Linked DNA regions of Homo sapiens. The protein of the gene in region 2 interacts with the protein of the main gene of each other region in a pairwise test. Each region holds a gene or a part of one and is shown on either strand. Other genes may lie near its edges.

Evidence for each region. The genes of interacting proteins can lie anywhere in the genome.
Region 1: the proteins of GOLGA8F (region 2) and HDDC3 interact in binary tests that used the Homo sapiens proteins (3 or more experiments, as listed by UniProt).
Region 3: the proteins of GOLGA8F (region 2) and MRFAP1 interact in binary tests that used the Homo sapiens proteins (3 or more experiments, as listed by UniProt).

What each region holds. Positions count from the first base shown.
Region 1 is NC_000015.10:90,929,550-90,936,955, forward strand, and holds HDDC3 (guanosine-3',5'-bis(diphosphate) 3'-pyrophosphohydrolase MESH1), read right to left. Parts: upstream 3,001-7,406; 5' UTR 2,992-3,000; coding exon 2,880-2,991; exon of another isoform or gene 2,837-2,879; intron 2,562-2,836; coding exon 2,506-2,561; intron 2,396-2,505; coding exon 2,155-2,395; intron 2,008-2,154; coding exon of another isoform or gene 1,994-2,007; exon of another isoform or gene 1,857-1,993; coding exon 1,726-1,856; 3' UTR 419-1,725; downstream 1-418. Other genes in the region: UNC45A (protein unc-45 homolog A), read left to right, coding at 5,776-5,826, 5,995-6,156, 6,397-6,433, 6,736-6,911. UniProt on the Homo sapiens protein: ppGpp hydrolyzing enzyme involved in starvation response.
Region 2 is NC_000015.10:28,374,120-28,381,667, forward strand, and holds the start of GOLGA8F (golgin subfamily A member 8F), read left to right. Parts: upstream 1-4,544; 5' UTR 4,545-4,642; coding exon 4,643-4,690; intron 4,691-6,387; coding exon 6,388-6,507; intron 6,508-7,092; coding exon 7,093-7,152; intron 7,153-7,335; coding exon 7,336-7,416; intron 7,417-7,548.
Region 3 is NC_000004.12:6,636,016-6,643,229, reverse strand, and holds MRFAP1 (MORF4 family-associated protein 1), read right to left. Parts: upstream 2,546-7,214; 5' UTR 2,368-2,545; coding exon 1,984-2,367; 3' UTR 1,972-1,983; intron 1,501-1,971; 3' UTR 501-1,500; downstream 1-500.

The DNA of each region.
Region 1 (7,406 bases), about 63 Mb from region 2:
TGAAACTCCGTCTCAAAAAAAAAAGCTAAAACGAAAGCTCCTAGAAGAAAACAGGAAAAGCTTCATGGCATTAGATTTGGCAACGATTTCTTAGATATGACACTAAAAACACAGGCAACAAAATATATAAAGTGGACTACAACAAAGTCATCTTTTCTTAAAAAAATCTCGTTATCTTACTCCCGCAAAACTATTTAAAAAAATTAAGTTCAAAGTTCTCCAAAATGTACCATACCCTGGGGATTACTCTGAACTTTGTTCATTTGTTTTCTTTTAATTCGGCTTTTTTGGTTGCCTTTCACCTACTTTTTCGCAGAGCCCTCCGCTGGGGCCTTCACTTGGGCAAACAACTATCGTAGTCGAACAGCTTTGACCTAACAATTTCCTCGTACCCAAGATGATCGCTTTTCCAGACAACTTAATAAACTTTGGCTTTAATGGATGACTGGATGCAGAATAAAATACATAAAAATAAACCTCAGCTGCTCAGCAACGACTGAAAAACCACCACCGGGCAATCCCTCCCCATGGCCACCGAGCAAAGTTCCACCGCCTCCCCTACGCCGACCGCCGGGCTCCCGGGGTCGGACAGCCCCGGGCCACTTCCGGGCCTTCCCGGAAGTCCCTGTCACTTAACAACCGAAGTAACCCGCAATGCGGAAGGGCGAGGGGATTGCGAGTCACCGAGTTTCCCGCGCGGCTTGAGGTACTGGGGAACCGGAATCCCCCACCGGCCCAATCATGTTGCTGCTGGGGTCTCTCCGGTGCCCAGCAGTGGTTGTCAGTAAGCGGGCGGCACTCCCTTCCGATACGTCTTTTCTTTTTTCATTTTTGAGACGGAGTCTCGCTGTGTCACCCAAGCTGGAGTGCAGTGGCGCGATCTCGGCTCAGTACAAACTCCGCCTCCCGGGTTCAAGCGAGTCTCCTGCCTCAGCCTCCTGAGTAGCTGGGATTACAGGCGCGAGCCACTGCGCCCGGCTAATTTTTTTTTGTATTTTTAGTAGAGACGGGGCCTCGCCATGCTGGCCAGGCTGGTCTTGAACTCCTGACCTCAAGTGATCCGCCCGCCTCGGTCTCCCAGAGTGCTGGGATTACAGGCGAGAGACACCGCGCCTGGCCCCCTTCCAACTTTCTTAACGGGAAAGGCTGCTACCATTTCTTGAGCACCTATGTGTCAGGCTCCATCAGGCACGTCACAGTCTAACCTGATAATTACACAACCCATGTCACTGACAAGGAAGCCAGGTTCGGAGGGGTTGAGGCCCGCAACCTGAGGGAGGTGACTCCGGGACACACAATTAGTCCTGCTTTGCTGAAGGAAAGATATGCAGCCCACCAGTCGGAGGCTGGAGAAGGAGCAGCAGCAGCTTAAACCTTAACCCAGAGTTATTTTTATTTTCCAGAACGTGTTAGGAACTAGTACTTAAATAATCTCAAGTCCCTGAGGGGCCAGAGATCCCACCATGCAAAATAGCAAACAGACCCAAGACTTGGGGAGAGGCGGTGAGTGCATCAGAAATGGATGGGTACATCTGATTCCCACCACGCGGGGCTCAGCTTAGTTAGCAGGAGACCTTCAGACTGAGAAAAAATGCAAGTCTTTTTTTGGCCTCTAATATCTGGGAAGGATGGAGGGAGCTCAGGAGACACAGAAAAGATGGCGTATGAATCCTGTCCGGCCTGAACGAGGCTGGAGTTGTGCCTCTGGATAGCTTCAAGCACTGATCAGATTGTCAGCCCCCGCTGCTTGAACAGATGCTTTAGAGCCTCTTCCAGTTGCCGGTTTGTTCCCTGAAGCCCCTTCACCACCTGCGCTGCCCACTCGAAGTATTCCTGGACTCGATGTTCTGACCATCCTGCATAAGAGTCGACAGAAACTTGCTAGCGTGATGTCAAGGAAAGCACTGCCTTTTCCCCACTTCCTGGCAAGCTTGGTTCAAGGCCATGAGTTCCTGATGGAATGAGCTGTCCTGAAAACTTCCCCTTGGCCCAGCTATTGTATTTTTACTGTATGAAAGAAGATCAAAGAGTGGTCCAGTAGGATTAATTTGGGAATTAAGAATGCCCAGGGTTTTTCAGGGGAACTGACCAACATGTGTCTTCAGAAGGCGGCATCCCCCTCCCTTTTCCCTTACAGCCCATACGAAAGCGTACCCTCTGGGGTGCAGCGATTCAGGTCCCTCAGATTGTACAGCTTGTCTGCCAGCTTCACCAGTTTGGCCCCGGGGCTACTGTGGGGCGCTTGCTCCACCTGCAGCCTCTTTCTCTCCAGCTTGGGCAGAGTCTTGTCATCTGTTACCTCCTCCACCAGGCGCCGCACTTGTGCCCCAAAGTGTAGCTCCACCTCATCCAGGGTGGTGTCTGTGTCCTCCACCGTGTCATGGAGCAGGGCCGCCTGGGGACAAGTTCCCACTCAGCCCTGAGATGTCAGCCAAGGGTTGCCCATTGCTGAATGGGGCCCCTAATCCCCATCCCAGGCTCCTGGCAGAGAAGGGGGAAAGTTACCTGTAACACCACAATGTCAGTGATTCCCGCCTCGTGGGTCAGGATCCGTGCCACACCTGACGGGGAGGGGCAAAGCAGGAAGTCAGGTCGGAGGTAGTCCCAAGGCGGTGTGTTGTGGGTTTTGGAGAGCCAGATGTGGCCCCTTGTGGACTCTGACTAGCTGGGTGACCTTGGTCAAGTACCTTACCCTCTGGGAGCCAACCGACAAAGGGAACGATCATGCCTACCGTTCCAATTGTTATGAGGCTTAAACGGTATATCGCACTAAGCTTGGGACAAAACAGGTGCTCAATGAGGTGCACGCCCCCCACGTTTCCTTCCCAGTCCCCACCACCCAGGTGCCGCAGCCGGCGCTCCGCGGCCGACGCGCCCACCGATGGGGTGGTTGATGTAGGGGGTCCCCTCGGGGTCCTTCCGCCGCTGCTGCCGGTGCTTGCGAGCCGCGAAGTCGGCAGCCTCCAGCAGCTGCGCCGCCTCAGAGCCCATCGCGCGGATGGGGCCGACGACTGCGGCCGCAGGGGCAGGGACGGAACGTTTACAGCGCCCCCTGGCGCCGGGGAGGCCCGGGGATCGTGGAGGCTAATTCAGCGGGCCGAGTTGGGCCTGCCCCAGATGAATTCCTCTGGAGCTGACCGGCCCGCGCAGAGAGCAAGTGATGTGGACAGCTGCCTTCAGCATCGCAGCCCCCAGCTCAGTGTGCTCTGTTGGGGGTGCAAGAAGAACATAAGCCTGGCTCTTTGGGAGCCCACAGTCTGTGGAAAAGAGGAAGACAGACAAGAAATAAGGCAGTGGCCTCACAGTGCTCTGAATCCAGGGTGGCCAAGGCTCAGGGGACTATGGGAGCGGGAAGAAAGAACAATCCCCACACCCTCAGAGTCAGAGACAGCTTCTCCCAGAAGCTCCCCCCAAGAACCATCTTCAACCTGTAAAAGCTCTGAAAATTCTCCAAGTGTTCTAAAAATAGTTCTCCCTGTAGGGATGGGCCAGGTTCTGTGGGCAGGGGAGTCTACCTTTGGACCCTCCAGGAGACCCTAGGGCCTGACCTGAAAAATCAGAGCCTTCCCTGGGAGCCCTGCCTAATTGCTTCAGACTTAGGCTCCCAGGTAGCTGTGACGTTTCTGCAGGAACTGCCTTTGTTTGTCCTCAGTGTTGCAGATGAAATTTGCCTTGTCTTCTTATGCTATGAGAGCTCCTATTTCAGTCTCTAGGCATCTTCTGTGGGCCCCTGGGGTGATGAGTGTTGTCACTGCTGTCCTGGGAGCATGATGTTGTCAGGCCTGGGTAGGCACTGGAATAACACTTAATTCTGCTGGCTGGTGGCCTTCTGGAGAAATTCCCTGCCTTAGGGGCAGCTGAGGGGTAAGAGAGACCTGGTGATCCCCATAGAACTTCTCTGTGAGAGGGGGTTCCCTATTAGCTAAGTATACTCTAATCAGACATGTAGCTTTTGTGTTCTGGCTGGTAGCTGGGGCAGATAAGGCTCAGGGGAAAGGCTAATGAAAGGAGTCACCCTTGGTTTTCAGCTAGTCTTGGTGGTTGCCACGTAGCAGAGGTTAGGGAGGGAAGCCCCACATGCTGGAACTGAGGTCTCTGGGACCTGAAATAGGAGGGTCAGAATTCCCAGAGCTTCCATGGCAGCCTGGAAGTTGGAGAATGGGTAGAAACATATTTGGCTGTAAATGCTTGTTTGTTCTTCATACTAATGGCTCAGCTGCTCTCTCATCCCTCATTCTGTCCTCTAGTCCTTTGAGCCTTCTCTCCTTCAGCAGTTTGGCAATGCAGGCCCCACGTTTTCCAACAGGAGACAGAAACCCAGTCCCTGTCATCTCTCTCTAAAAGCCTGTGATAGAGAAGCTTCAGGCTCGTATTAATGGTGCCCAAGGGCCTTGGGGCTTTGACTTTTATTTCCTTATTGTCTGCAGTCACGGCCTAGAAAGAGAGATGTTGGGGTTCCCAGGACCAGGACAGAGGTGGTAGTGAACTCTCATGGGCATCCAGAGAAGGTCAGGCCCCTTGCTGACAGGCCTATCTGTGGGGCTACTGCTGCTCTTCAGCTGGGTGACCCTTGTCCAGCCAACCTCTCTCTCAGGTACAGCACTTACCCCTGTGGCCCACCTGCCTCTGGTGCTATGGGCTATTCCTGGGAACTGGAACTGATGGGGATGGGTGGAAGGGCATCTTTTCTTCTGGTAGGGGCTGATCTCTTTTACTCTCCAGTAGGGGTGGAGTGAGCTGTGGAAAGGCCCCTCCTGCTTGTCTCTAGCACCCCCACCTCTCTCTTCAGCTCTGGTCCACCACCCTCACTTGTGCCAGACCACCCGGGATGTCCATGGCCGTCACTACCCTGGTTTCTTTTGCCCTCGTCTGTCTGATTCTCCAGAGGAAGCCTACTGCTGCCACCTGCAGGCTGCAGGGGGCTCCTGCTGCACCCGGGCTGAATTTGAGGCCCTGTACCAAGTCAATCTGTCCGCTCTTCCGCCCCCGCCCATCCTCAGGTGAGATCTCCAACCCCAGAGCCACTGGAACATCGACAGGGTGTTCCAGTATCTGGGGCTCTGTTCCTAAATTATGGGGTGGTAGGCTTGTAACTTACAGACTAGTGAAGGGACAGACCGCAACAGAAAATCATGTAGATCATGATTACAATTACAAAGGAGAAGTTCAGGGGGCTGTGCAAGCTGGTAATGGGGAGCCATCCTGAATCTGCCCATGGGTGGCTCTAGGATGAGCTCCTAAATTCGTATGCAAATGTGTGTATGTAAGACGACACTTATTTGGGGAGGGAGTCCTGAGCTTTCTCCGGACTCCCAGGGATTCTGTACCCCCCACAGAGCGCAGCAGCGAGAGCGCGGTCGGGGCCGGGATCCAGATACTTTTTCTCTCCCGCAGGGGCCCAGGCCCGCTCCTAGTGCTGGGCCTCTACAACCTACTGGTTGTGACCCTGATGACCGTAGACCTCGTGCACTTCTGCTGCGGTCGGGGCCGGAGTCTGGGCTGGAGCCACCGCAGGCCTCCCTCTGGGTCCTCCGCCGCGAGCTCCCTGCAGGTCTCTGCGGGGACAGCTTAGGTGCGCCCGGAGCTTGCCTGCACCTGCGATCCAGAGCCAAGCGCCCCGCCCCTGCCCGGGCGCGCTCCCTCCTTAGCCCTGCCCCTCTCTGACCCCACCTCCGACGCAAGAGTGGGGCGGGGCAGCTGCCGGTGGCGTCCCGAACCCAGACTCGCCCCGCCCCAGAGACTGCGCCTGCGCGGGCACGAGACAACCTCTCCGCGATGACTGTGAGTGGTCCAGGGACCCCCGAGCCCCGGCCGGCCACCCCCGGGGTGCGTACCCAACCCCCGCGCCATCACCCCTTCGCACCCGCCCTGACCATCCCTGGCCTCCTTCTCCCCATCCATGAGGCTCGCCCCGATCCCTCCTCTCCTCTCCCCTTAGCTCCCGGGCTCTGCCCCGAACCCCCTCCGACGTTTCCGCCCCCTTTCTCTCTACAGGCCAGCTCAGTGGAGCAGCTGCGGAAGGAGGGCAATGAGCTGTTCAAATGTGGAGACTACGGGGGCGCCCTGGCGGCCTACACTCAGGCCCTGGGTCTGGACGCGACGCCCCAGGACCAGGCCGTTCTGCACCGGAACCGGGCCGCCTGCCACCTCAAGCTGGTGAGGGAGCCTGGCGCTCTTCCCCTCGCCCGCCCGGGCCCCGGTTCGCCCATCTAAGCTGATGCTTGGGCCCCAGCTGGACATTCACGCTCCCAGGCCATCCCCGCTTGCCAGATGTTTTTTGCACCTCAGGGTGGTGGGGGATCGGGTGACCTTGGAGAGCGAGAGTACCCCTGCTGCCTGGTTAGTGCCCCGAGAGGGAGATGACCATTCCTTCAGGCTCCTGTCTTTCTCTTACAGGAAGATTACGACAAAGCAGAAACAGAGGCATCCAAAGGTAGGGGAATGGTGGGCCCTGGTGTGGAGCTGTAGGGCTTCTGTGGTGGGCAAGGACTCTGGGACCGCTGCACCGTCACATTCTCCTCCTTTGGCCCCAGAGACACATCTGCCTTCTTTCTTTCCCACTGCCTCGGGCCTTTCCTTTTCTGCAGCTACCCTCACCTTTTCTGAGGCTGAAGCACCGAGCCCCACATTCGTCCCCCCCACCTTCTTCTGGCCTTTCCTCGAGATCTTTCCCTACTGCTCTTGCCTGGAGACAGTGGCCTCATGGGTGCTGACAGCGCTCCTGTTTGTGCTCAGCCATTGAAAAGGATGGTGGGGATGTCAAAGCACTCTACCGGCGGAGCCAAGCCCTAGAGAAGCTGGGCCGCCTGGACCAGGCTGTCCTTGACCTGCAGAGATGTGTGAGCTTGGAGCCCAAGAACAAAGTTTTCCAGGAGGCCTTGCGGAACATCGGGGGCCAGATTCAGGAGAAGGTATGTGAGTGACCCAGAGAGGTGGAAGCATTGACTGGTGGTGAAGGGGTCTGGGCCAGGGGTGTAGACACAGTTCTCCAGACGAGATCCCGGTGGCAAGTGAACCTTGCCTGTGGCCAGGGAAAAGCAAATTAAGATGACAGCACATTACTGTTGATTTGGAGGTCTGTCTGGCAGATATTTAAAAGTTTGTACACTTTTCGAGAAGGAGAGAGGCAGACACATCAGTGGTGAGGCTGGGGGCCAAGGGCTCTCTGATGACTGCTGGAGGGGTATAAATTGGTACAGCTCTTTTCGAGAGTACTTTAGCATATCTATTCAATTTCAAATGAGCGTATCTTGTGATCCCATATGTTTACTTCTTGCTGTTTCTCTCAGAGAAACCTTGTCCACGTGCACAAGTAGACATGTGTATGTTTATTTCAGCCTTTTTTGTAGTAAGAAAAACTTGGAACTTGCCTGAATGCCCAGCCATAGAGGAATGGCTGAATAAAT
Region 2 (7,548 bases):
AAATTCCTACACAAATCCCAATAGAATTTTTTTGTGGAACTCGAGAGGCTGATCCTAAAATTCATACAGTCACTTGAGGGGCCAAGAATAGTGTAACAGGGCTGGCGGGGCTGGTGGCTCACACCTGTAGTCCCAGTACTTGGGAAGTCAAGACTGGAGGATGGTTTGAACCCAGGAGTTCAAGACCAGCCTAGGCAACATAGCAAGATGTTGTCTCAAAATATTAAAAATAAATAAATAAATAAAAAGAAGGTTAAGTATGCACATTTTGTTGTGAATTTCAATTTTATAGTGATTTTTTTTTTTTTTTTGAGACAGGGTCTTGCTCTGTCACCCAGGCTGGAGTGCAGTGGTGCCATCTTGGTTCACTGCAACCTCTGCGTGGGCTCAAGCAATCCTCCCGCCTCACTCTCTGGAGTAGCTGGGACCACAGTTATGTGCCACCACACCTGACTAATTTTTATATTTTTTTTTTGTAGAGACGGGGTTTTTCCATGTTGCCCAGGTTGTTCTCAAACTCATCCACCTGCCTTGGCCTCCGTAAGTGAGATCACAGACATGGGCCACTGTGCCCGGTCTAGTGCGCTTTTTTTTTTTTTTTTTTTTTTAACCAAACAAACGATGAAGTCTCAGGAGTAAAAGTTGATACACAAGTAAATTTTATTGGTAATGTTTTTGTGTGGTCTTTAAGCAGAGGGAAAATTAGTCTGCATTATGGTGTATCCAGACTAAATAACTGATATTAAAATGAAATTATCCTTAGGATTTGCAATCTTAGAGAAAACTTTTTCATTTTTTTTGAGTTACAAATTATCTTCACTTACATTTGAGAACAGTGAGTCACAGAGGGATTAAGTATCTTACTCAAGATCTTCAAGTGTTTGGTTTGAACCCAATCTTTTCACTCTGCAGAACTCAGAGTCACTCTTATTTGGAAACTTTTTAACTGATGTGGATCCTCTAATATGGGCTTCCTATTATTCATTCCGTATTAGTCAGAAGTTTTGCAAGCAGGCAGAATTCATTTTGCCAATTACGGGATTTTCCCTCAGTTGCAGTCAAGGTTCATAAAACTATAACTATTTATCTTTAATTATAAATTTTGTTTTTGAGACAAAGTCTTGCTCTGTTGCTCAGACTGGGATCCAGTGGCACAGTAACAGCCCATTGCAGCTTTGAACTCCTGGGCTCAAGGGATCCTCCGCCTCAGCCTCCCAAGTATCTGGGACTACAAGTGCATGCCATCATCCCTGGCTAATTTTGTTAAAAAAAAAAAATTGTAGAGATAGGGTCTTGCTTCGTTGCCCAGGCTGGTCTCAAACTCCTGGCCTCAAGCAAGCCTTCAGCCTTGGTCTCCCAAAGGGCTGAGATTACAGGTGTCAGCCATTGCACCTGGCCAAAACTGTAACTATATATACACACACACATAACTACATATATATGTGTGTGTGTGTGTGTATGTATGTGTGTGTGTATATATATTTTTATATATAAATAGATATATCTGAAAGGCATCAAAAGAAAAAAGCTGTAACTTTTAGTCTTGATCTTGATAGTGACTTGATTAGGCTATCTGTTTAACATCAAAGATGCAAATTAATGCTTTCTTTGGGTGAGCATATTAAAAATGCAGAAAATATTGGAGTAGTTTTTTATGTTAAATAAATTGTATTCTGTGTATTTAAGGTATACAACATGATTTTATGGGATGCATATAGATGGTTAAAAAAAATTACTACAGTGAAGCAAATTAACGTATCCTTCAACTCAGATAGTTACCCGTTTTCTTTTTGTTTGGTGGCAAGAGGAGCTTAAAATCTCATTTAGCGTGAATCCCAAATACAGCACAATTTTATTACCTATATTTCTCGCGTTGTACATTATATTTCTAGGCTTGTTCATCCTACATATCTGCTACTGTGTAACCTCTGAGCTATGTCCACCCATTTTCTCTCTTGCCCCCCAAGTAATTTCCTAAAGTGTCTCATATAAAAAGGCAGTAGCTTTCAGCTTAAACTTTTTCTCTGTATATATTTAAGTCAATTTCTTTGAGGTATGTTTTTCTCTCCAGAATAGTTAGATGTAGGCATACCACTTTAATGTTGACACTAGTTCACCTAGAACTTATCTTCTGCAAATCTGTCTCTATGTCCATCTCTGTCTCCATCTTTGTCTCTGTCTTTATCTCTGTCTATCTATCTATCCATCCATCCATCCATCCATCTATCTCTCTATCCATCTATCTGTCTATCTAACTAAAGCAAATTCATGCCCTTCTCCTATTTATGGAATCGAGACCATAAACAGAGGTGAGGGAAAGAATTTGGCAGGAATTGCGATGTGTATTACCTGTGGCATAAGGAAACTTTACAGAACTAGGGTCAAAAGTATACTTTCTAGTTCTTTCCCATGGCTTTTCACTTTGATGTAGTCCTTATCAGGCAACTGAGGTTTTATATAAGTCCCCTGATTCTTAGAACATGAAGGTGTAGTATTCAAGTTTGGTCCCTTGAAACCACAATTTTTGTTAAAAAAAAATTAAGAAAATTGTATAATTTCCTCAGCAAATACATATTGATCATCTGTTATACAGCCATGAGAAGTGGTTCTGTTGAACACGTTTATTTTATCAGATCCCAATTCTAAACCAGGCATAGAATGGAAACCATGAAGGTAGGATGAAATAACTTCTGAATGTTTGAAAATAGTGTACTTAAAAATAAATATCAGGTGTTTTTGTTTTGTTTTTTGTTTTTTGTTTTTGAGACAGGGTCTCACTCTGTCACCCAGGCTGGAGTGTGGTGGTGCCATCTCACCTCATTGCAGCCTTGACCTCCCAGGCTCGGGTGATCTCCCACCTCAGCCTCCCAAGTAGCTGGGACTACAGGCACATGCCACCATGCCCAGCTAATTTTTTGTATTTTTTGTAGAGACAGGGTTTCACCATGTTGCCCAAGCTGGTCTAGAACTCCTGGGCTTAAGCGATCTTCCCACCTCAGCCTCCCAAAGTGCCAGGATTACAGGCATGAGCCACCATGCCTGGCTGAAAATACCAGGTTTTTAAGTATCAGCACTGCCTCTTCAATCTTTTCTATTACTATGTTGTGCTCAGTGGTATTTTTTATTGAATTAGAGCAGTGCTGTTCAATGGAACCTTCTTTGAGGATGGAAATCTTTTATGTCTCTGCTGTGTGGGTATGGTATTAGCTGGGTATGGGGCACCTGCCTATAGTCCCAGCTACTCAAGAGGCTGAGGTGGGAGGATCACTTGAGCCCAGGAGGCCGAGTCTGCAGGTTCGTACCACTGCAATTCAGCCTGTGTGACAGAATGAGACTCAGTCTCAGAATAAAATGAAATAAGGAAATAAAAATGTAATTGTTGAAATAAGAAACTAGTGGATGGATTAGACACGAGAAGAAAGAATTAATTGTTTAGGCGATTCTCTCCAAAAAGTAAGTCAGCATGTCACACAGAGAGACATGAGGATGGATGATAGGGCAGAAGTTGGTGGGCTTGGAGGGGAGAGGAAGATCAGAATGAGGTCCAAAATGTGTCTTAGTGAAATCCCAGGAGGAGATATTAAAATTATATTAGAAAGTGAAAGAAATAGAAGTTTTATTTATTTATTTATTTATTTATTTTGAGAAGGAGTCTCGCTCTGTAGCCCAGGCTCGAGTGCAGTGGCACGATCTGAGCTCACTGCAAGCTCCACCTCCTGGGTTCACGCCATTCTCCTGCCTCAGCTTCCCAAGTAGCTGGGACTACAGGCACCCACCACCACGCCTGGCTAATTTTTTGTATTTTTAGTAGAGATGTGGTTTCACCTTTTTAGTCAGGATGGTCTCAATCTCCTGACCTCATGATCCGCCAGCCTCAGGCTCCTAAAGTGCTGGAATTATACGCATAAGCCACTGCACCCGGCCCAAAAGCTTTGTGTTTTTACAAATATTACACATGTTTCTTGTTTAAGAAAAAAAGTCTTCACAATAACGTAGGAGAATAAGAGAAACATTTTTCCAAAAAAGAGAAGTCATTGTGATTATTTTATCTTATTGGAATGTTGGATAATATAGTCTGCTTCAGTAATCATCAAGCATGCTATGGATTTTCCATCTTCATAGGATCTGTATCTCGGTTAAGGTAATACTGGTAATTTTTGTACTCTATGAAAAATATAGGCCAAAATCATAGACCTTGCATAGAAGCTGGATCATGAAGACAGCTCTGGAGGAACACACAGGTACACACACACAGACACACATATATATAAAGTATACACATATATATTTTTTAAAAGCTTTTAAAGCAAAAGCCGGCCCTGCCCCTCTCCCAGAGTTGGCGGCCTCTCCCCTCTCTTAGAGTGGGTGGGGACAGTGGTTGCATGGGCAGCTTTCCTTGTGAGCCAAAGGTCCCTCTGGACACATGATGCCTGGCCACGCCCCCTTTCCCTTTCATCTTTCTCATTAACCAATGGGCTTGGAGCATTAAGGCCACGCCCCTATTCTGCCTTCTACTGCATCCCTGGTTACGCCTCCTCTGGCTCAGTCGCACAGCTACCTGGTAGGTGACTGGAGGTGTTGATCAGTGCTTGGTGGGATTTTGCTGATGTGGCCCCAAGCCCGCCTCCCTCCCCACCCTGCGATGGCAGAAGAAACTCGACAAAGTAAATTGGCAGCAGCCAAGAGAAAGGTAAAAACACACCAGGTCACGGACCCCCAACCCAGCCATAGATCCTCTCCAACGACAAGACTGCTGCCAGAGTCCATACCACTCCCGAGGTTCACCGGACTGGGACCCCCACACCGGTGCCTCTGGGCTACCCCCACCAAAGTTTTGTCAGTCAGCCCCACCCCTTCAGCAAGCAGCCCAGTCTCTGCCCTCACCAATCACCCCAGGGTGACTTTGGGCAGGTGAATCCTGGGGCTCCCCGCTCCTTTACTGGGCCCTCATCTCCTGCCACCCCAAGCTTGACCTCCCAGGGCTTTTTGGGCTCACATCTCCAAGGACCTGGGTCCCACAGCCCCAGACCCCACCCTCACCAGTCATCCCTGGGTGACTTTAGGCTGGTGAATCCTGGGGCTCCCTGCTGCTGACTCTTCCCTTCCCTCCTGCTGCCTCAAGGTGGACCTCCCTAGGCTGTGTGCACTGGTGTCTCCAAGGACCTGGGTCCCAGCTCTGTTTTTCCCTCCCCTATCATGGAGCGGTGACTCGGACATCATGCTGATGTGGTCCCTCCCCCTCACCAGGAAGAGTGGAATGTAGTGATGTCACGGTCCATCCAGTAACTGTCATTACTGCAAGACTGGCCTTTGATCTTATGACCCAGTCCCCTAAGCATTGCCACCCCATTTCTGGTTCCTCTTGTCACAGCACAAATTTCCAGCTGGAAGGGGAATGGAGATTGGGACCTAGGAGCAAGAGGTTTCAGGCTGCCTCACTCCCTTAGCATAAACATTGACAGCGGGAAAAGCCTACACTTCCCCTGTGAGCTCAAAACATTGACAGTACCTCTGGATGGCAACTGGAGAATGGGTTTGACTTGGTTTGGTTTTCTCCCAGGCTTCTACTTTCCAGAGAGATTTTAACAAATTTTTTGTGAGTTCTCCACCTCACATTCTAATTCTCCATGGTTCTGGGACCAGACTGCCCTTCAGCCAGTGGTCTGTGAAGTGAGATTTGCTCATCTTCTCTGGAATAGATCTTGGGAAACTGAACTTGACAGCTTGAATCTTCCTCATATTATGTAAACCTGGGGTACTTTGAGTGCCACAGGATACATATGGGACATCTTTCTGAAGCATCAGTTTCCATTGATTCTCTTGAGATCAAGAGAAAAAACATTAATGTACTTAGGGATGACAGTCACATAGGTTTCTAAGAGTATACCAGACTTCTCTCTGAAATGAGGCTTGGGTTGTCCTCTTTCTGATAAATTCCCAGATTTAACAGAAAGGCTGCCTTCTGCCATGAGGACACATTGATATAAGAGTTTGAGAGGTACTGGTGCACTTCTTCACACTAACAGACGTGTGAGGATGTATGACTAAACCACATGGCATACAGTTCCTGCCTACTTAATGTTTACTTTTCTACCTCTGCCTCTGGTTTTGGTCCCTGGCAGCTGCTGATTCTTGGTAAAACCCCAGAGTTTGGAGTCAGAAGACTGAGTTTCAAAGTTCGTCTGTCGCCTTTTTCTTTTCTTCTTTTTTTTTCTAGCCATGATATCAATCTCTTTGAGTCACTAAATGATTGTGACAACACCTTGTACAGTTGTTGGTATCATTAAATCAGATGGTGTATAAGAGTATTTTATAAAAACTGTAAAGGAGGATGTGGCTGCAGGGGCTGATAGTTCTCATGAGTATTACTGCTCTTGTTTCTGACAGTTAAAAGAATATTGGCAGAGAAACAGCCCTGGTGTTCCAGCAGGAGCCAAGAGGAACAGGAAAACAAATGGCAGCATCCATGAGACAGCCACTTCTGGTGGTTGCCACTCACCTGGAGATGTGAGTCTTGGCTGACTAGGTTCCTGGGGACAGGGGACCCAAGGGGCACTAGAGGGTAATTGTTAAGATTGTGGATGGACTGTTGGGTACCTGTGAAGAATTCTGGGTTTGAATCCTGCCTCTTTGTCTGCTAGGGATATGAATTAGGGCAAGTTGCTAGACCTCATCGGGCCTCTCTTTTCACATCTGTATAATAGAGGTGGTATTGTTTCACTTCCATTTGTGAAGTTTAAATGAGATTTGTTATTGTTGTTTTTATGTTAATCCCTAGTACATGGCCTGCTGTAAACACCCAGAACACCCAGGATATGGTCATTGCTGTTCGATTTTCCTCATCCCCAGTCTCAAGGGGAAGCCAGGACAATGAGAACAGTCACTTGGCACAGGAGTCACTGAAAGGGCCACAGGGTGCTGTGGTGGGGAGATAAGAACCATGAGAGAAGTTGGCACAAAGGAGTTATGGGACAAAGGGTCCAAGATAGGCAGAAAAGAAAATTGTGCCAGTTGATGGGGAAGAAAAGAAGTCAGAGGGCTTAGATACTGAGTGGGACAGAACATCTTCATGTGCACTCTCATCTCTTGTAGTCAGCAACAGGTATCCACGGGGAGAGCCCTACATCATCTGCTACCCTGAAGGATCTGGAGGTAAGAGGCTCTGGGCAGAGGTGCAGTGACCCTGCAGGCCAGCCCTCCAACCTCCTCCTCCAGGTGGGACGGGGTGCCCCTCTGCCAGCTGAGACAGTCCACACACACCCCAGCCCTAATGATTGCTCTCTCTACCTCTCCCCCCACTCCTCCTCCACCTCCTCCTCTCTGCATGCGCCTCAGAGCCCGTGCCAAGAACTAGCAGTAGTCCCAGACTCGAGGTCCGTAAAAGTCAGTCAACTGAAGAACACCATCAAATCTTTGGTAAGAGTCCACTGGGGTCCCCTGATTCCACGCTGCCAATCCTGGGCTCTAGTTTCCCCTTGGGGCCCTGAAGAAAGGGGACGGCGGCCCCTGGTGCCAAGGGCGAATAGGGAGCTGGGGCGCCCAGGCCTC
Region 3 (7,214 bases), on a different chromosome or scaffold from region 2:
ACCCAGGGAAAAGGGCATGACTTTGGCTAACGCAGCTCTCCTCTGAAAAGGCACTGCCCAGAGGGCTAACCAGCTGAAGGGTGTTTGTCAGCAACACTTCTAGCAGCTGAGGCAGAAAGGCTTCAATCTGGAAGGAGGGTGGGGTATCACATCTCCTCTATGTCATCCCTCACCCTGCAACTGTAATCGCTATATTCCCAGTGCAAGGCCTAGAAAACAATGTTCCAATTGGAAAGACTGAAGGTGCTTTGGCTCTCTGAAGGCAGAGGCCTGGACCACAGGATTACATGTGGTTTCTTCCCACACTAAGAACCAAGTGTGTTTCTTCCTCACCCGGTTCCCAACAGCAGAGAGAGAAAGCTTCCCTTTGATTAGAGACTAAGAGCCTCAGAAACCGTTAAGATGTTCACCCTCCATTTGACAGTGAGAACCATCTGGGAGACAGCAGATTTCATTCTTAAAGGACTAACATTTCTCAATAACCTTTTAGGTCTTTCGTCTTTTCAAGCAAATGAATACTTTTATTAACATGGTAAGTTTTTGTTTGTTTTAACATGGTAGGGTTCTGACCTCAAATATTTGTTAGGTCTGCTACTCAAATGAACTTACAGCTGGACAACGTATGAACCTTGAAGATGCCTCTTCTAGTCCAGTTTAGGGTCCAATGCAGACAGTTCCATACTGTCATCCCCAAGCCCCTCAAGGGCCTTTGCCAATCTTTCATTTTATGCCAAGTCCTCTAAAACGCATCAGGGTATTACATCAACTTGTACAGAATATCAAGATCTTATCTTCTATTTTAGGTTCCATGTCAAATAAAGCTGAGTTAGGTTGTCCAAACAAACTCACCAGACAGGTTACATAAGATAGTGTACCACAACAAATTTAAATTTTGAACAAAACACATCTCTCCTCCTTTGGTCTCACACAGAAATTAAAGTCTCCAAATACAGACAATACTATCCATTCTCCAGCTCTTCTCCAGATTCACGAGTCCCAGCCAGGTCGGCCCATCCACACTCCCCGTTGAAGTCTGGTCCTTTCTTCAGTAGTTGCTGCATGGAGTCGTCTTCCAGAATTAATGCAGCTCCTTCAGCACCTCCAGAGCTGGAGAACTCCAACTGTGAGTCTCATGTGTCACACACAGACCCAAAGTTCCAGGGAGCTATCAGGTCACACAAGAAATAGCAAAGCACCTCAAAAATTTAGAAATAACCACCAAAGCCCGGGAACAAATGTGACTGCTGCAAGAGCTTACAATCTAGGCCCTAATTCCTGTATGTGAGAGCATTTTCAAACAAAATTACTTCCCAAACAAAAACACGTTAACAATCGAAACTCATATTGAGGTCATCAACCACAGACCATAGCAGAAAACGTAGTGTTAAGTGAGACAGAGCATAGACAGGAAAAAAGAGAAAACAAAAGGCTCTCTGGTTTCGGCTTCTCCAGGGTGTCAGCCAATCTCCACCAGTTGACCAGAATCCATTGGCTGGAAACCTAAAGCACAATGGGAAGAAATTCATCATCGAGAGGTTAATCCCAGGCACAACGACCCCCAAACCCTCACGAACGCCACTGTGCAGGACGCCACCTCTTCTGGCCACCACCTGACTCACTCCAGTCTCTAGCAACGTTGACTTGTCCAACGTCTTCCCCGAAAATCCTCTATTTCCACCCCCGCTTGCTGGACGGCCCGGGACCTTGTCCGTTTCTGTTTCCTTGGCGACTCTGAGATTTATGACCCTTCCACTGAACACGCATCACGCCCAAACCCGGCCACTCTGATTATCCCACGCCGCCACCGTCAAAAAACAAAACACGAAGACGGGGCCCAGATCGGCCCTGACCCGAGCACGCCTTTATTCTCCCGCCCCACCCCCGATTCCGGTGCATCTCGATGAAATCATCGCTCTCGAAGAGCGGCCAAGCTGGGGCCGCTCCTCGGCCTGGCGCGGGTGCCCGACTTACCGCCGACCGCGCTCACGACGACTCGCTCTTCTCTATCCGCCGGACCAGCTCCACCAGCATCTCTGCCATCTTCGCAATCTCCTTGGCCTTCTCCTCGGCCTTCTCGCACCTCTTGGCCGCCCGGCCCTCGGCCGCGTCGCCCGGGTTCTGGAGGTGGTTGAGGGCGCTCTCCTCCGAGGCCTCCACCTGCGTTTTGATCTGGATGAGCATATTGTCCATCTCCCACAGCTTGCTCCGGTTCCGCAGGTACGCCCGCCCGTGCTCGCGCGTCAGCGACGCGATGTCCTCGCGCATCTCGTTGATGACCGGGAGCAGAAACTGCTCGAAATCCTCCTCGGGCTCCAGCACCTCCACTTCCTCCGGTTCCGCCAGCTCGACGATGTCCAGGGGCCGCATCTCTTCCCACTGCCTCGGAACCGCAATAGCGATGTCTGTTGGAGAGAGAAAACCGACACTCGCTATGCTTAGCAATAGAGAGCCCGAATATTCCTGAAAACTTTTACCCTTTTTCAACTTTTCTTCTCAGAGAAGCCACGGACAAGCGACTTACGCGCAGAGTAACGGCGAACAAAATGGAGTCCCGGCCGTCAACCAGCGCTCTGCGCGTTGCGGCCCCTTTCACGACACAGCCGGGCCTCTTTACGGTCAGGGGGGCGAGCTGCGGGCGCGCGCACGTCTAGAAAGAGAGGCACCGGCGGCGGCGTCGCGGCCGCACGGACGCGCACGCAGGCACGCGCAGGTACGGGACCGCACGCTCTCGCTCGTTCCTGCTTTCCCGTTACCTCTGTGCGTCACCCCTGTTTTACCCTGTGTTTGGAGGGTGGCCTCTTCTGGGTGTTTCCCTCCGATAGGGCTTCTTGAGCACGCGAGTTTACATTTTTTAAAAAGGCCTCCCGCACTTCCCAGGCGCGGTGGCTCACGCCTGTAATCTCAGCACGTTGGGAGGCGAGGTGGGTGGATGGCTTGAGGTCAGGAATTCGAGACCAGCCTGGCCGACATGGCGAGACCCCGTCTCTACCAAAAATACAAAAATTAGCCGGGCGTCGTGTTGCACGCGTGTAACCCCAGCTGCTTGGGAGGCTGAGACAATCGTTTGAAAACGGGAGGCGGAGGTTGCAGTGAGCCCATATCGCGCCACTGCTCTCCAGCCTGTGCATCAGAGTGAGACTCCGTCGCAAAATAAATAAATAAAATATAAATGAAAATTAAAAAGGGCCTTCCACACTAGAAGAGGAGGATCCTACGTGATAATGCAGCTACCCCAGGTGGACGCTTAAAGCCCCTTCCTTTCACGCAGGGGGACCTGAGTCCCCTCAGCCGTTTTATTTACTTTTTTTTTTTTTTTTTTTGGAGACAGAGTCTGGCTCTATCGCCCAGGCTGGAGTGCAGTGGCACGATCTCGGCTCACTGCAAACTCCACCTCCGGGGTTCACACCATTCTCCTGCCTCAGCCTCGCGAGTAGCTGGGACTACAGGCGCCTGCCACCGCACCCGGCTAATTTTTTGTATTTTTAGTAGAGACGGGGTTTCACCGTGTTAGCCAGGATGGTCTCGATCTCCTGACCTCGTGATCCATCCACCTCGGCCTCCCAAAGTGCTGGGATTACAGGCGTAAGCCACCGTGCCGGGCCTTATTTACTTATTATTATTTAAAAAGTTTTTTTTTTTTATTGAGGCAGGGTCTCGGTCTGTCGCCCAGGCTGGAGTCCAGTGGTGGGATCATGGCTCACTGCAGCCTTGATCTTCTGGCCTCAAGTGATCCTTCCACTTCGGGCCTCCCAAAGTGCAGAGATTACAGGCATGAGCCGTGCGCCTGGCCCTTTCTGCCTTTTTAAAGAGTAGTTTTCCTTCTTCCTTGGATGACAGTCAGAAGGGTCTGGGTGTCTTTTCACCAAACCGGCCTCCCCACACCCCAAGGTGGAGCCTGGCTGCTCCGTCCTGAGGCCCCAGCAGACCCATGTTCAGTGTGTGGTGCAAGGCGCTGTCCAGAGCCTCTGAGCCCTTCCACTGGATCCTAGGCTCTTTGGGGTCTTAGCTCTGTGGCCTTAATGCCCTAACGCCCTGGGCAGAGCTTGGCGCATATTGGTAAATTTGCCTTAACATCCACTCAACACAGAATGAGGAGAGATACGTTAATTTCCTAGCTTGTTGTCCCATTCCCAAACATCAATAAACTTTTCAGAAATCCAGCTTACATAAATCCCATGGATTTGGCTTCCATTTTCAAGGTAAAGGGACACATCACAGTTTTGACTACAGCAGAATTAAGGATTCAGAGAAACGTAAGTATATGTTTTGTTTTGACTTTTCTCAGGTTCTTAATATTTTGGTTGCTCTTGTAAAAACCCAACTTTGGGGCTTGTGTGAAAGGAAAATAAATCTTGGGACCCCATAATCACTAAACCAAAGGGGACAGTCAAGCTGGGAACTGCATCAGGCAAACCTGCCTCCCATTCTATTCCTAAAAAAGATAGCTACTAAGATTAAAAAGCTACCTACCTCCCTCACAAGGAAATTCCTTGTGGACAAATGACAGAACTCGGAGCCACCCATCTGCTCACTGAGATAGATGCATCTCTGACTGCCTCCTTTGGAAAGGCCAATCAGAAACTCAAAAGAATGCAACTGTTTGTCTCTTATCTACCTATTAACTGAAAGCCCCTGCCCTGCTTCAAGTTGTCTGGCCTGTCTGGACCAAACCAATGTACATCTTACATATATTGATTGATGTCCCATGTCTCCCTAAAATGTATAAAACTAAGCTGTACCCCAACCACCTTGGGCACATGTCATCAGGACCTCCTGAGGCCATGTCATGGGTGTGTGTCCTTAACCTTGGCAAAATAAACTTTCTTTTTTTTTTTCACATTTCTTTCATTTTTTTTATTATTATTATACTTTAAGTTTTAGGGTACATGTGCACAATGTGCTGGTTAGTTACATATGTATACATGTGCCATTCTGGTGTGCTACACCCATTAACTCGTCATTTAGCATTAGGTATATCTCCTAATGCTATGCCTCCCCCCTCCCCCCACCCCACAACAGTCCCCAGAGTGTGATGTTCCCCTTCCCGTGTCCATGTGTTCTCATTTTCAATTCCCATCTATGAGTGAGAACATGCGGTGTTTAGTTTTTTGTCCTTGCGATAGTTTACTGAGAATGATGATTTCCAATTTCATCCATGTCCCTACAAAGGACATGAACTCATCATTTTTTATGGCTGCATAGTATTCCATGGTGTATATGTGCCACATTTTCTTAATCCTGTCTATCATTGTTGGACATTTGGGTTGGTTCCAAGTCTTTGCTATTGTGAATAGTGCCGCAATAAACATACGTGTGCATGTGTCTTTATAGCAGCATGATTTATAGTCCTTTGGGTATATACCCAGTAATGGGATGGCTGGGTGAAATGGTATTTCTAGTTCTAGATCCCTGAGGAATCGCCACACTGACTTTCACAATGGTTGAACTAGTTTACAGTCCCACCAACAGTGTAAAAGTGTTCCTATTTCTCCACATCCTCTCCAGCACCTGTTGTTTCCTGACTTTTTAATGATTGCCATTCTAGCTGGTGTGAGATGGTATCTCATTGTGGTTTTGATTTGCATTTCTCTGATGGCCAGTGATGGTGAGCATTTTTTCATGTGTCTTTTGGCTGCATAAATGTCTTCTTTTGAGAAGTGTCTGTTCATATCCTTCTCCCACTTTTTGATGGGGTTGTTTGTTTTTTTCTCATAAATGTGTTTGAGTTCATTGTAGATTCTGGATATTAGCCCTTTGTCAGATGAGTAGGTTGCGAAAATTTTCTCCCATTTTGTAGGTTGCCTGTTCACTCTGATGGTAGTTTCTTTTGCTGTGCAGAAGCTCTTTAGTTTAATTAGATCCCATTTGTCAATTTTGGCTTTAGTTGCCATTGCTTTTGGTGTTTTAGACATGAAGTCCTTGCCCATGCCTATGTCCTGAATGGTAATGCCTAGGTTTTCTTCTAGGGTTTTTATGGTTTTAGGTCTAACGTTTAAGTCTTTAATCCATCTTGAATTAATTTTTGTGTAAGGTGTAAGGAAGGGATCCAGTTTCAGCTTTCTCCATATGGCTAGCCAGTTTTCCCAGCACCATTTATTAAATAGGGAATCCTTTCCCCATTGCTTGTTTTTCTCAGGTTTGTCAAAGATCAGATAGTTGTAGATGTGCGGCGTTATTTTTGAGGGCTCTGTTCTGTTCCATTGATCTATATCTCTGTTTTGGTACCAGTACCATGCTGTTTTGGTTACTGTAGCCTTGTAGTATAGTTTGAAGTCAGGTAGCGTGATGCCTCCAGCTTTGTTCTTTTGGCTTAGGATTGACTTGGCAATGCGGGCTCTTTTTTGGTTCCATATGAACTTTAAAGTAGTTTTTTTCCAATTCTGTGAAGAAAGTCATTGGTAGCTTGATGGGGATGGCATTGAATGTATAAATTACCTTGGGCAGTATGGCCATTTTCACGATATTGATTCTTCCTACCCATGAGCATGGAATGTTCTTCCATTTGTTTGTATCCTCTTTTGTTTCATTGAGCAGTGGTTTGTAGTTCTCCTTGAAGAGGTCCTTCACGTCCCTTGTAAGTTGGATTCCTAAGTATTTTATTCTCTTTGAAGCAATTGTGAATGGGAGTTCACTCATGATTTGGCTCTCCGTTTGTCTGTTATCGGTGTATAAGAATGCTTGTGATTTTTGTACATTGATTTTGTATCTTGAGACTTTGCTGAAGTTGCTTATCAGCTTAAGGAGATTTTGGGCTGAGACAATGGGGTTTTCTGGATATACAATCATGTCATCTGCAAACAGGGACAATTTGACTTCCTCTTTTCCTAATTGAATACCCTTTATTTCCTTCTCCTGCCTAATTGCCCTGGCCAGAACTTCCAACACTATGTTGAATAGGAGTGGTGAGAGAGGGCATCCCTGTCTTGTGCCAGTTTTCAAAGGGAATGCTTCCAGTTTTTGCCCATTCATTATGATATTGGCTGTGGGTTTGTCATAGATAGCTCTTATTATTTTGAGATACGTCCCATCAATACCGAATTTATTGCGAGTTTTAGCATGAAGGGTTGTTGAACTTTGTCAAAGGCCTTTTCTGCATCTATTGAGATAATCATGTGGTTTTTGTCTTTAGTTCTGTTTATATGCTGGATTACATTTATTGATTTGCGTATAATAAACTTTCTTAATTGACTGATGCATGTCTTAGATATTTGGGG